2 separate regions of the Homo sapiens genome follow, and region 2 is linked to region 1. Evidence: fine-mapped QTL for protein levels in blood plasma. A gene starts in region 1. The other region holds a variant in brackets. All regions are shown on one strand. Distances are from middle to middle. Region 1 holds the start of CLSTN2 (calsyntenin 2). Region 2 overlaps CLSTN2 (calsyntenin 2).

Evidence for each region. PIP is the posterior inclusion probability: the model's chance that the variant is causal. Protein levels are from antibody-based Olink assays in UK Biobank. Linkage for the fine-mapping came from a reference panel and not from the study's own genotypes, which makes the PIPs less certain.
Region 2: its variant is fine-mapped to the plasma level of the CLSTN2 protein (UK Biobank, PIP above 0.99). The variant lies in the coding sequence of CLSTN2. If it changes the protein, the assay may bind it differently, which can mimic a change of level.

The regions. Positions count from the first base shown.
Region 1 is chr3:139,932,078-139,937,450 of GRCh38, reverse strand. CLSTN2 (calsyntenin 2) reads right to left here and starts at 2,266. Exons shown (of 17, transcript NM_022131.3): 1 at 1,968-2,266. The coding sequence starts at 2,076. RefSeq lists silencers at 2,119-2,178, 2,219-2,268.
Region 2 is chr3:140,445,338-140,450,710 of GRCh38, reverse strand. CLSTN2 (calsyntenin 2) reads right to left here. Exons shown (of 17, transcript NM_022131.3): 6 at 2,007-2,192. LOC124900599 (a long non-coding RNA gene) reads left to right here. Exons shown (of 3, transcript XR_924548.3): 2 at 668-769; 3 at 935-1,224. Among named protein-coding and RNA genes, the nearest start is that of CLSTN2-AS1, 61 kb to the left of the region's middle. The variant A/T (reference allele first, on the strand shown) is at 2,063.

The sequences.
Region 1 (5,373 bases):
AAATGCCTAGTTTTAACCAAAAAATGAATATGTTCTAAGTCGGATGTTGGTTAAAATGCACATAATTATCCACATAAAGTGAATCATTGAAAGCCTGGGGTTTTTATTTTCCTTTTTTATCTCTCTCCTTCTCTTTCTCGCTTACCTCTATGAAGCTTCCCATTCTGACCTGAGAACTCAGCCGTGCATTATTACTACTCACACCAGATCCTCTTCCCAAATGATTTCTTCCCTGTTCTGCACTTGCTGTGTGCTTCTCACCCTCCTTCAAACTCCCGTTTGCAGACATCTGCTTATATCAATTACTGTGCTACAAAGTGATGGGAAATCTCCTCCCCCCCACCCCCCAAAAAAGTAATTTGCCTGTTTAACAAAGTGTCTATATTGGGAAAGCAGGGGGGAGATGTTTGGAAGTTCATTGTTTTTTATTCTTGTCTTCACCAAAACAACAGTCTCTCAGCTTGATCCCTTCATATCAGCCACTTCTTTACCGCACTCTGAGATATTTTCATAACGAGTTTTTCTCTCATGAAATTTCTCATTTCTAAAAATAGAAACTGCCTGTCAAAGATACACCAAGAAAAAAAATGCTGAAAAGAAACAGAATGCCTGCTTATAAAATATTTTCAAAACGATGACACCAAAAAATTTAAAAATTACAGATAAACATAATCTCCCATGTTCTTCTCAAATATATCACTCCTAAGTTATTGGAGGGCCAGTTTCTAAAGCCCAGACAAGGCGAACTGCCTGCCTCCAGCTCTCCCCAACCTCCAAGAGTAATGCAGCCTGATAGGCATTTCCTCCCCTAAGCTAGTGGTCAAGTGTAGCTCAAAGCAAGCGTCCGAATCAGGCTGTCTCTAACAGGGAATCTATTTTCTGACAGGCGCAAACCCCTCCGCCCTCTGATGATTGCCAGGCAGGATTTGGGGACCAAGTACCCCTCATTGTCACCTGGCGGATTTGGCCACAGTCCACAAACCAAACGCAAGCCCTACTTATGAACAGCGCAGAGAATCAACAAGTTATCACTAAGCTGTGCGCCCCAGCTAGGATCTGCCACAGCCTCCCCTGAGCCCACCACTGTTCCCCACCAGCTCTGCTCTTCCCTCGCCTCCCCACCCCCTGCAAGCACGTGACCTCCTGTTTCAGACCCGGCCCCCCACCCCAGAGCTCCCGACGCTCCCAGGCAGCTGTCAAAGTCCGGGGTTCGCCGGCTTCCAGGCTCGCCTGACAGAGCCAGGCGTTCGCTTGGATCTAGCTTCCTTCCGGGCGGGAGGCGCGGGGAGGTCAAGCTCTTCAAAGGAACAGGGTGGGCAGGGGAGTGGTGCCAGGTTAGGCTCCTCGGTCCTCGGTAGTCAGAGCGGAGTAGGAAAGGCAGCGGGGAGCCTCACATCCCGCGCTTCTTCCGGACCCCGCCGCCTACCCGGAGGGTACACGTTCCCCGGGGAGTCAGAGACGCCCTGGGGGAGCTTGAGGAGTGTCAGCGGGGCCTTCCCTGGAGCCTACAAGTTTCCACTCCATCCCCGAGCTGGGAGACAAGTCACAGCTCGGCTCCCTCCTTGAAAGCACCGCCGCTGATCCTTCCCCCAGGCAGGAGCAGACACCTGCTTGTCCCCACGGCGCGCCAGCGCCCTGCTCTAGCCGTCCCTGGGCCAGAGCTCGAAACTCACCCACTGCGCTCCCACCCCGGCACAGACAGCCCTCAAAGTTGTCCGTACTCCCCAGACCTCGCCTTCTGCTCAGCCCCCGGACCCCGCCCAGGGGTTGAGTTGACGTCCGCGGGTGGACCTCTCTGGTCCGCTGCGCAGGGAACTGACTTCGGGAATCCAGGGCGCACAGAGGCCAAAGAAGCTGCGGCAAGGGAGGGTGGGCAAATCCAGCTTGAGCCTAGGTCCTTGCCGCTTTCACCCTCAAGCCTGCCCTGCCTCCCTCCTGGGAGAAGAGCAAACTTCCCCAGCACCCACCTTTAGCCGCGAGGAGGCGGCGCTGCCGGCTGTCCCCGCCACCGCCGCTGCCGCTCCCCACGCCCAGCGCCAGCAGGAGCGGCACCCAGCACAGCCGCCCAGGCAGCATCCTCGCAGCAGCCGCCAACGAGCTGCAGCCGCCGCCTACTGTCCGCGCCGGCTCTCGCCTCCCGGTGCCTGCCGCACCGTGGGCCGCCTCGCCGTGCCCGATGGGTGCGCTTCTAGCGCTGCCGCCGCGGCGCTCGGCCTCGGGTTCCCGCCGCTGCGCCGCTAGCTCGCCGGCAGCAGCCGCGCTCACTGGCGCGGACCCGGAGCGGCTCAGGCGCTCACCCCGGGACGGCCCGTGACGTCACGGAGGGAGGGAGGTGGCTCGTGCATATTCATGAACGCGGGCATCGGCGCCGGGTTCCGCGCTCCCCGCCCCAAGGCCCCGACCCCCAACTTTCCTCAGCCGTCTCCACGCTCCGGGGCCCTGTCCAGGTCCCCCTGCCCAGTCGGGACCGGGCCCCCAGAGGACCCTGGTGGGCGGCTCCGGAGAGCCCTCCAGCCCCGCGCCTCCACTCCGACTCTCGGAAAAGCTGCCGCAAGGGATGGAGGGCTCCCCCAGAAAGTGGCCACCCGAGGCCTGAGGGTCATCTGGGGTGGCGCGAGGGACCCTGACCTGCCATGCCCTTTGAACTGATATCTGGGCGGAGAGGACTGACGGGCGTCGCTAAGGGTCTTGCCCTTGGCTGGGTCTCTGGGCGTTCTGCGTCGACTGGTCTGGGGAGGGCGCCAGGCGCACACTAGAGCAGCGCCTAGTGGTGCTAGGGGTTGTCGGGCAGAGTAGATAGCCTTGGACCTGGATGGCAATGGCAGGGCTCCGCGTCATCTCCGAGAAGCAGGGGCAGCCGCGGCTCTTAGAGGCTGATAGAACAGCTAGATCAGAAAACTTGGGGTGCTGGGCCTGCTGAGGCTGCAGTGGCGGGGGCGGGGTGTCAAACTTAAAATTCCCTGCGGTATGGTGCCATGCAAGAAGTTGCCACCTTTATGTTGTCACTCCGCATCTCTAAGAACAGGCTACTTGACGTCATGCATTGTAAAATCTCGTGCCGTTGAGTATTGTCAGTTCCCTGAGTGCAGGAGCCAGTGCATATCTTTGCATCCTCAACCATCTCTAGGCCGTGAAAAAATTACAAAGGTACTCAAAAAAAAAAAAAAAAAAAACAGTAAGGACTCAGAATAAATCCTTGACCATATTTACCTAAATGAAATGCCAACATCACACACAATGCAGGGTTTATGAGGAATAGTTTGGAAATAAAGTAGATATGGAAATACAGAAACAAACAATATTATTTATTTAGTCATTGATTCAAGACGTTTGCTGAGCATCTAGACAGGCTGTATCACCCTGACAGTGAGCACTGGATTAGTCGTTGGAGATCCAAAGACAGAGGAGAGAGTGGGTCCTATCCTCAAAGCTTTTGTTCCCTGCTTGGGGAGCCAGAGAGGGCAGCAAAGGCAATTACAATCCCTTGTAAGTGTTATGGTCCTGCACATTCTTTATGTTGCTAGCTATGAGCCTATACAAATCAATTAACAAAATGTATATATTGCAAGAGTGCCTAAACAGCATCCTCTAATTAATAACTGTAGTTTGAGGTACTCAACAAAGCCATAAAATCCATTAACAGCACTCCTGCAGCTCAGCCTCCCTCTGCTGCCCTGGCAGCTCACTCAGAGCCTCTGCAGTGGTGAAAGCCAACTCTTCAGGATTTCAGGCACCAGGATGTGCTTGGGGACAGCAGTGAATCATGGTGGCTGCATGGGGCTCAGACCCATGTGGGGCTCTTTACCTTCAGGTCTCCTTTAGCCCACAAATCAACATGTGCGCTATTATTCTCATTTCACACATGATGAAATAGAGGCTCAGGGAAGTTAGGTAACTTCCTTGTTCAGGGTCAAAAATCTAGTAAATGTCCCAGGCCGACACCAGGACCTTGCCTTTGTCAGATGTTGGTTTCAGAATCTAGAAAAGATGGCATGGAAAGGTGGTAGCTGACCCAGGGAAAATAAAAAAGCCAGAAAATAGAAGAGAAATGTAAATTTGTCTCATTTTCTTCCATTTATGCTCCACCCAACTACATATCTGCCCTCCTCCCTTCATTTTCTCTAATAAGTAGACCTATCTTACTGACTTACCTGCACTGTTCTTTGATGTCATTATACTGGGCTTTGTTAAGATCACTGATTGGTCCTAATAATTTTATGTGAAGTTTCAAATTCAGACCAAATAATGAGAAACAGGGGGAAATGTAGCTTATTAGGAAGCATCTCCATGGAGAGATAGCCAGGAAAGAACACAGCAAAGAAAAACACTAGGGGGTGGGCCAGTTACCAACAGGCACAAAATTGCTAGCCTCCATCTCCTCCTCTACCAATGAGGGTAATAACAATGCCTATTGTGGTAGATCAAGTGCACTAATGGCCATTTGTCCATGCTTCTCTGAATCTGTTTCCTTTGGATGTGCCCTCCCACCCCAACTCTGAGCTAGGCCATATGATTTGCTTTGGTCAGTGGGACAGTGGCATGCATGTTGCTTCTTCCTGCCTTGAATCCCTGCTGCTGACATGAGAACAAGCCTAAGCTAACCTGCAGAAGGGTAGGAGACTGCATGGAGTAGAACTGAGCTGTTTCAGACAGCCAAGGTCACACTAGGCTGGTCAGAACCAACTGGCCTACAGGCTGGCTAACCACAGACACATGAGCAAGCCCAGGTAAGCTCAACCAAGATCAGCCAAGCCTGGCTCACATCAGAACTATCCAGCTGACTTATGAGATACAATAAGTGGTTTTTGCATTAATTCATTATGTTCTGGAGCAATTGATTGAGCAGCATTATGCCTACTTCATAAGATCATTACAAGAAGTAAATTTTAAAAATATGTTAAACAGTATGTTGCACATAGTCAATGTTCAATAAATGTAAAAATGTCTTCCCCTTATCCTACTTCCTATATCTCTGAAAACAAGTGTGCCAGTCACACATTTGATTTGATTCATTTGGGGAACAGGCAACAATGACCTGCCTTAGAGGAGATAAAAGTAAGTAAGTTCAGCCTTAGAAATACTCAGACATAAGAGCTTTTAAGTCCACATCATTTGTATGGAGCACTACTGTGCTGTCTGCTTCTGCTGGGCCATTGCAGATGCAAAAGATGGGGTAAAGCAACCTAACAGTTAATGAGTCCTCATTCTTTCCATGCCAGGCTTTACAATGGAGGATATACATTCCACACCTACACCTTCTTTAATCTTTGCAACAAGTGTGCTGTGGTTTGAATATGTGTCCCCTCCAAAACTCATGTTGAAGCTTAATCCTCAATGTGGCAGTATTGAGAGGTGAGACATTTGGCAGGGGGC
Region 2 (5,373 bases), 510 kb before region 1:
TATGTGTGAAAGTTGAGGGAGAAAAACTGCCCCAAAGATAATAGTGGAGAGGCCCACCTTGGGGGAAGGCAGGCTAGACTGTGCATTCACAGCCTCCTTTTCTTTTGGAGGAGATGCAGTTACCTCCAAATACAAGCCCACTGTAAGAGTAAGCCCTTTCCTAAGCTCCCAAACATGGCTGGAGAGTCCAGTGTGAGTTCCTGAGTATTTTGGGAGAGAACAAGGAAGAAATCAACTATGTGCAGGAGTAGGAGTGAAGGAGGCCCATCACCATGTCAACAGTCTGACTTACTAAGCACATGAGGCACTTCTCGCCTTATGAGATGCTCTTTTTCTCATTTCACAGACTCACTGAGAGATTTACATTCTAGCTCCCGAGGCCTGGATGGAGGCCTGGATGGATAGCCTTAGTGGATACTGAGCTAAAATGCCCATCATTTAGACAGACTTACTTTCAAATCCTGGCTCTGTTGCTTTCTATCTGTGTGACCTTAGACAGGTCATTTTCACTCTCTGGGCCTCAAATTTTTCACCTCTAAAATGGGATGGGTGACCTCCTCATGGTGAAGATGGGATAACTAAATAAAGTAATGCATGTGAAGAGGCTGGCAGGGCACACAGAGCAGGTGCTCAGTGAAGCTGGCTTTCCTCCATATCCACCTTTCAGAGCACCCCTCCATCAGCTTTGTTTCCTAACTCCTGGCCTGCCTCCTTTCTTGTGGCGCCATCTCACAGCCAAATGACAACAAGCCCTCTCTGTCCCTCACAAGTGAGTATCTTCCTTTGTCTACCGTCACCCTCACCCCAAGCTCTTCTCTGCTGTGGGCAGCCAGACTCAGCTTCATGGGCATGTGACCTTGTTACCTGGGGCAGTGACTATGTGACAGAGCTGAATTTCTACCCTGTCCTAACTTTGCTTATCTTTAACAAACAGAATGCCTGTGATAAAAAGTTCCCTTTGCAGCCAGACCAGCTGAGACTGGTACATAGAACCAAGACAGCTGACCAAAGGACTTCAAAAAGACCTCAGTCTTCATGATAATCTTATTTCCATGCTAAATGATACTCCCTCCAGCACCACGACAGTTGACAATTGCCATGACAATGACTGGAAGAAGCCGTAAAAGGACTAAAAGGGAGGCGGTACTACTGATTCCAGGAGGTTCACCACCCACTTCTGGAAAAGACATGAATATTCTTCCCTTTTCTTTTAATGTCACCTCCTTCATTAGAGAAATCCTGTATCTTAAGCCCCTCACCCTCACTTGTTGAGAAGTTGATTGTGAGCCATCTCCTGCTTCTCAATTCCACGGCCATTGAATAAAGCCTGCACTGCTTGACACTCACTTTTGGTTTTGTGTATTGGCTTTGTGATACTGAATAAGGAAAGACTCCATCTTTGGTAAGACCAGCTTTGTCAGTAACAACCTGAGTAGTCATATAGGGCCCAAGGCTTAGTTGTGTTTACTTGGTTTAATGCTTTGCTGTCTCTGTTGTAAAACTCTTGTTAATTTTTGAACAAGAGCCCCAAATTTTCATTTGCACTGGGCCCCACAAATTATATAGCTGGCGCTTTGGGGAGGAGACCAATCCCTTTCCAGGTGACTGACACTACTAACTCTTCATACTGGGTCTGGTCTGATTGCTTTTTCTAAACCAGTGGGGCAGAAAGGAACTCGTGTTTCTTTGGGCCCTGACCTAGGTACTCCTGAAAGTATCGTGCCATTTAATTCCCGTTTTACCAAAGAAGAGCAAAGGCTTTGCTTTTCCATGTCACTTGCCCAAGGCCACATAACTAATAAATGGAGTCTGAGTCAGGAGTCTACTGCCAAAAACTGGGCCTTCCAACCCTTCTGCCATAAGTAAACTTAAAATCCATCCAGGAGTTACACATATCAGTGCAGGAAGGGAGGGTTGATTCTTGCCTAAGACAATAAGATATGCTTTTTTGGTATACATCATTTAAAAGCAATTGATTTTTAAAATCCCAAAAGGGAAAAACCTACCACATAACTTTTGAAGGGATTTCTCAGAGTAGGTCTCCCGGTCACAACCCTTCCCA[A/T]TGTAATTAGTCTGCAGCTCTGTGACGATCTGGAGGGAAGACACGGCTCCATCGCACGTCTCCAGGTGGATGCTGGGGAACAGGGGCATGCTCCCGGAGCCAGGCTGGTACTCAATCCTCTTGGTCCAGTCTAAACAAACAAGGAAAGGATGAAAAGTGAATCAGGTGCAGTCAGTTCTGCTGGAACATTTCTTTTAGAAATGTGAATTTGTTCCAACGAATTATTTGCCCCAACACATATATTAGATATTAGGGAACAGTTTGAGAATAATGGCAGTTTTACATTTGCTTATGCAGGGTTTCCTCCCTGGGAAATACTAGGCAAACACAGAAAACTGCACCCAGCTGCACTGAGCCACATAGGAATACACAAAACATGTGCAGGCACGTGCATACTCACATGAGCACACACACACACACACACACACACACACACACAGTCACACCCTCAAACATATACCAGCCACTTAGTTCACCATGTGTTATGAGCCACACCCGTCCACGCCTGCAGTTACAACTTTTCATTCATTTCCCAGATACTCCTTCAAGGACTTCACAACAACACACCAGAGGCAACCCCCATCATCCCCAAACCTTTTTTTTAGTATCTCAAAATTTATGTTTTAACTTTTATTTTAGGTTTAGGTGTACATGTGCAGGTTTGTTATATAGGTAAATTTGTGTCATGGGGGCTTGTTGTACAGATTATTTCAGTACCTGGGGAGGCAACCTTCTTACATTCATTTCACAGGCAAACGTCAGATCTCCTCAAGGCAAGGTGCCATACTTATTGTAGTACTTGTGCAATATTGTGCTAATGTTTTCTCTTTCTCCTTTTTTTCTAATGTGCCACCGATGACATTTTTGAGTGTTGTGCCCCTCACCCCATTTTTTAACTTTGCCTCACGTGGTCATTTTTAGGAAGGCATGTGCCTTGTTATAAAACAAAAGGAAGCATGGTTGTTCAAGGATCTCATGAGGTCACAAGGTAGGGTGAAAGGATTCTCAGACACTCAGAACTGTGAGTTACTGAAGTAGGTCTCATGGTCTTGTCACTGCGTTTTAGTGAAAAAATAATGTGGAAATGATAAAGCATTAGAGAGGAACAAAATCACGATTAAAATGGCACCATGCAAGAACACAGCAATCAACACATACAAACTCTACAAGTGAATGTACACAGGAATTGACTGATATAATAACAGCAGCACCTGAAAAGTCAGAGCGGACTCAAGGCAGGCTCCCAGTGACTGACGACATGTGTTTGCCTCCCACAGCGGGCATCCCACGCTCTGGGAGGACACATGTCTGAGACGGCTGTGCAGCCATCCTCAGCCAGACTTATGTGCAGAAGAGTGATTCTGACTCATCAAGCAATGTGAGTTATGGGTGCTATTAGTTTACTAATCCCAAATGTTTGTCACATAGAACATTGCTAGATGATATCCCTTTGCTGAAGTAGAAATAAAAATCTATAAAGTTGCCTGACCTCACCCATGAGAAACTCAGAAAGTCCTGCATTGTGGGACTCAGTATCAGGCTGCAGTTACCAGAAGGCTACTCAGTTCCCAATGGGCCACTGGAGCCACCATGGTGATACCGGTATCTTGGAAGAGACTGGGCTTTGGGGCTAGCCAGACGGCTTTGTTCACTGAGCAACCATTTGTTCAGGGTTTGTTTCTATGTGCCAGGCTCTGCTTGGAGTACAAAGGGTACAGCAGTGAACAAGTCAGGAGCCTAGGGAGAGAGGCAGGTGATGAATAAGCCTGTGCTGCTCTAACAGAAAGGAGTAAGTGCTATGAAAGGAAAAGCCAGTGATAGAGAGGGGCTCCTTTAGCTTGAGACTTAACCTCTGAGCTGAGGCCTGAATATCAAGGACAAATGCATTGGGGGAAGCCTCAGGGAAGCATGTGTGAAGCAGATGCAGCAACAATCTTGGCTTGGCTTTGTAAGGTCAGGAAGTTCTTGAGCAGGTTATTGAAGGTCTCCAAGCCTCAGGCATCCCATCAAGGAAATGGGGACCATAGCACTGACCTAATAGTATTGAGGTAAGGATTGAGTGTGAAAATGTGTACATAGCATGCAGTAGGGACTGATCAATGTTGTTCCCTGTCAAGGAAGGAGACAATCCGCCCTCCTGCATCACAACTTTGATACATTTCAGGTACCTTTGCAATCTGAGTTTAGCTCTGAGCCCCCATGGTCACCAGCTGCCCTTTATGGAGTTTTCTGAGTGTGTCACAAGTAGAGGGTGCACATTACGGATGTGAGATTCATCCCTAGGGTACTTATAATAAGAGGATGTTTGGATGAGAGTGACTAATTGTAAAGGAGAATATCCCTACTTCTATGTTATTTTCCTCAAAGTCTTTAGGAGCTGTATCTGGATTAGCCCATCCCCTCCCAGAGGATGAGATCATGAAGTTGCTGCAGCCCATGCTCTAAAAGCCTCAAGTGCAATCTTAAGGACAAACCACTGGAGCAAAAGGTGGCTTTTTGTCTGGTGTATCTAAAGTCATAGTGCCATAGGAAGCCCTCCACACACATGGCCAGCTGTGTAGTGTCCTAGGTACAAAATGCTTTGTACCACTCCGTATTTCTGTTGTTTCTTCTACTTGGGGTTCCCTATCACTATCCCTCTTGCCACCTCCTCCATGTGTCCTTCCGGGATTTCTCCAGTCTAGGTAGATGCCCTCTCTCCTCCATGCTTCTACAGTATTTTCAACATGAGGCTGCAGCATTAGACTCTAAGCTTCATGGTGCCTCTGAGGCCTCATCGTGCTAGTCAGTGCCTGGCACAGAGTAGATGCTCACTAGTGGTAGAAACTGTGACAGAATCCTACAGGCTATCTTTTGATAGGAAATATTTGCTGGGTGGATCTGGGCAGCCGCAGACATCTAACCTTGATTGCTGCCTTGGTAGCACTTCCTGAGCTGCAGACAGAATCCATGGCTTGTTTGCAGCTTCTCTGGTACTGATCCCACCGGCCTGTATCTTCACTCCTGCTGGACCATCTATCCCTTCTCTATATAGAATCATCTATCTCTCCTCTCTCCCCAAACCCTCCATAAACTCCCTTTCTGTCCATTGAAAATGGAGAAAGCAGTTTTGTGCTGGGAGTGGGAGCTTGGTGTGCACCCTGCGGCACCAGTCTTGAGGTTCTCCTGTTTCTGCTAGTGTAGGAGAGCCCTCCCACAATACCTCCCCTCTGGTCATGGTCTCTGGAGGCCTTTTCTCTGGAGAAACCCAAGACACCCTCCTCATTGATTCCCTTTATTCAGCAGAGGCTGCAGGCATCCCTTTCTCGTCT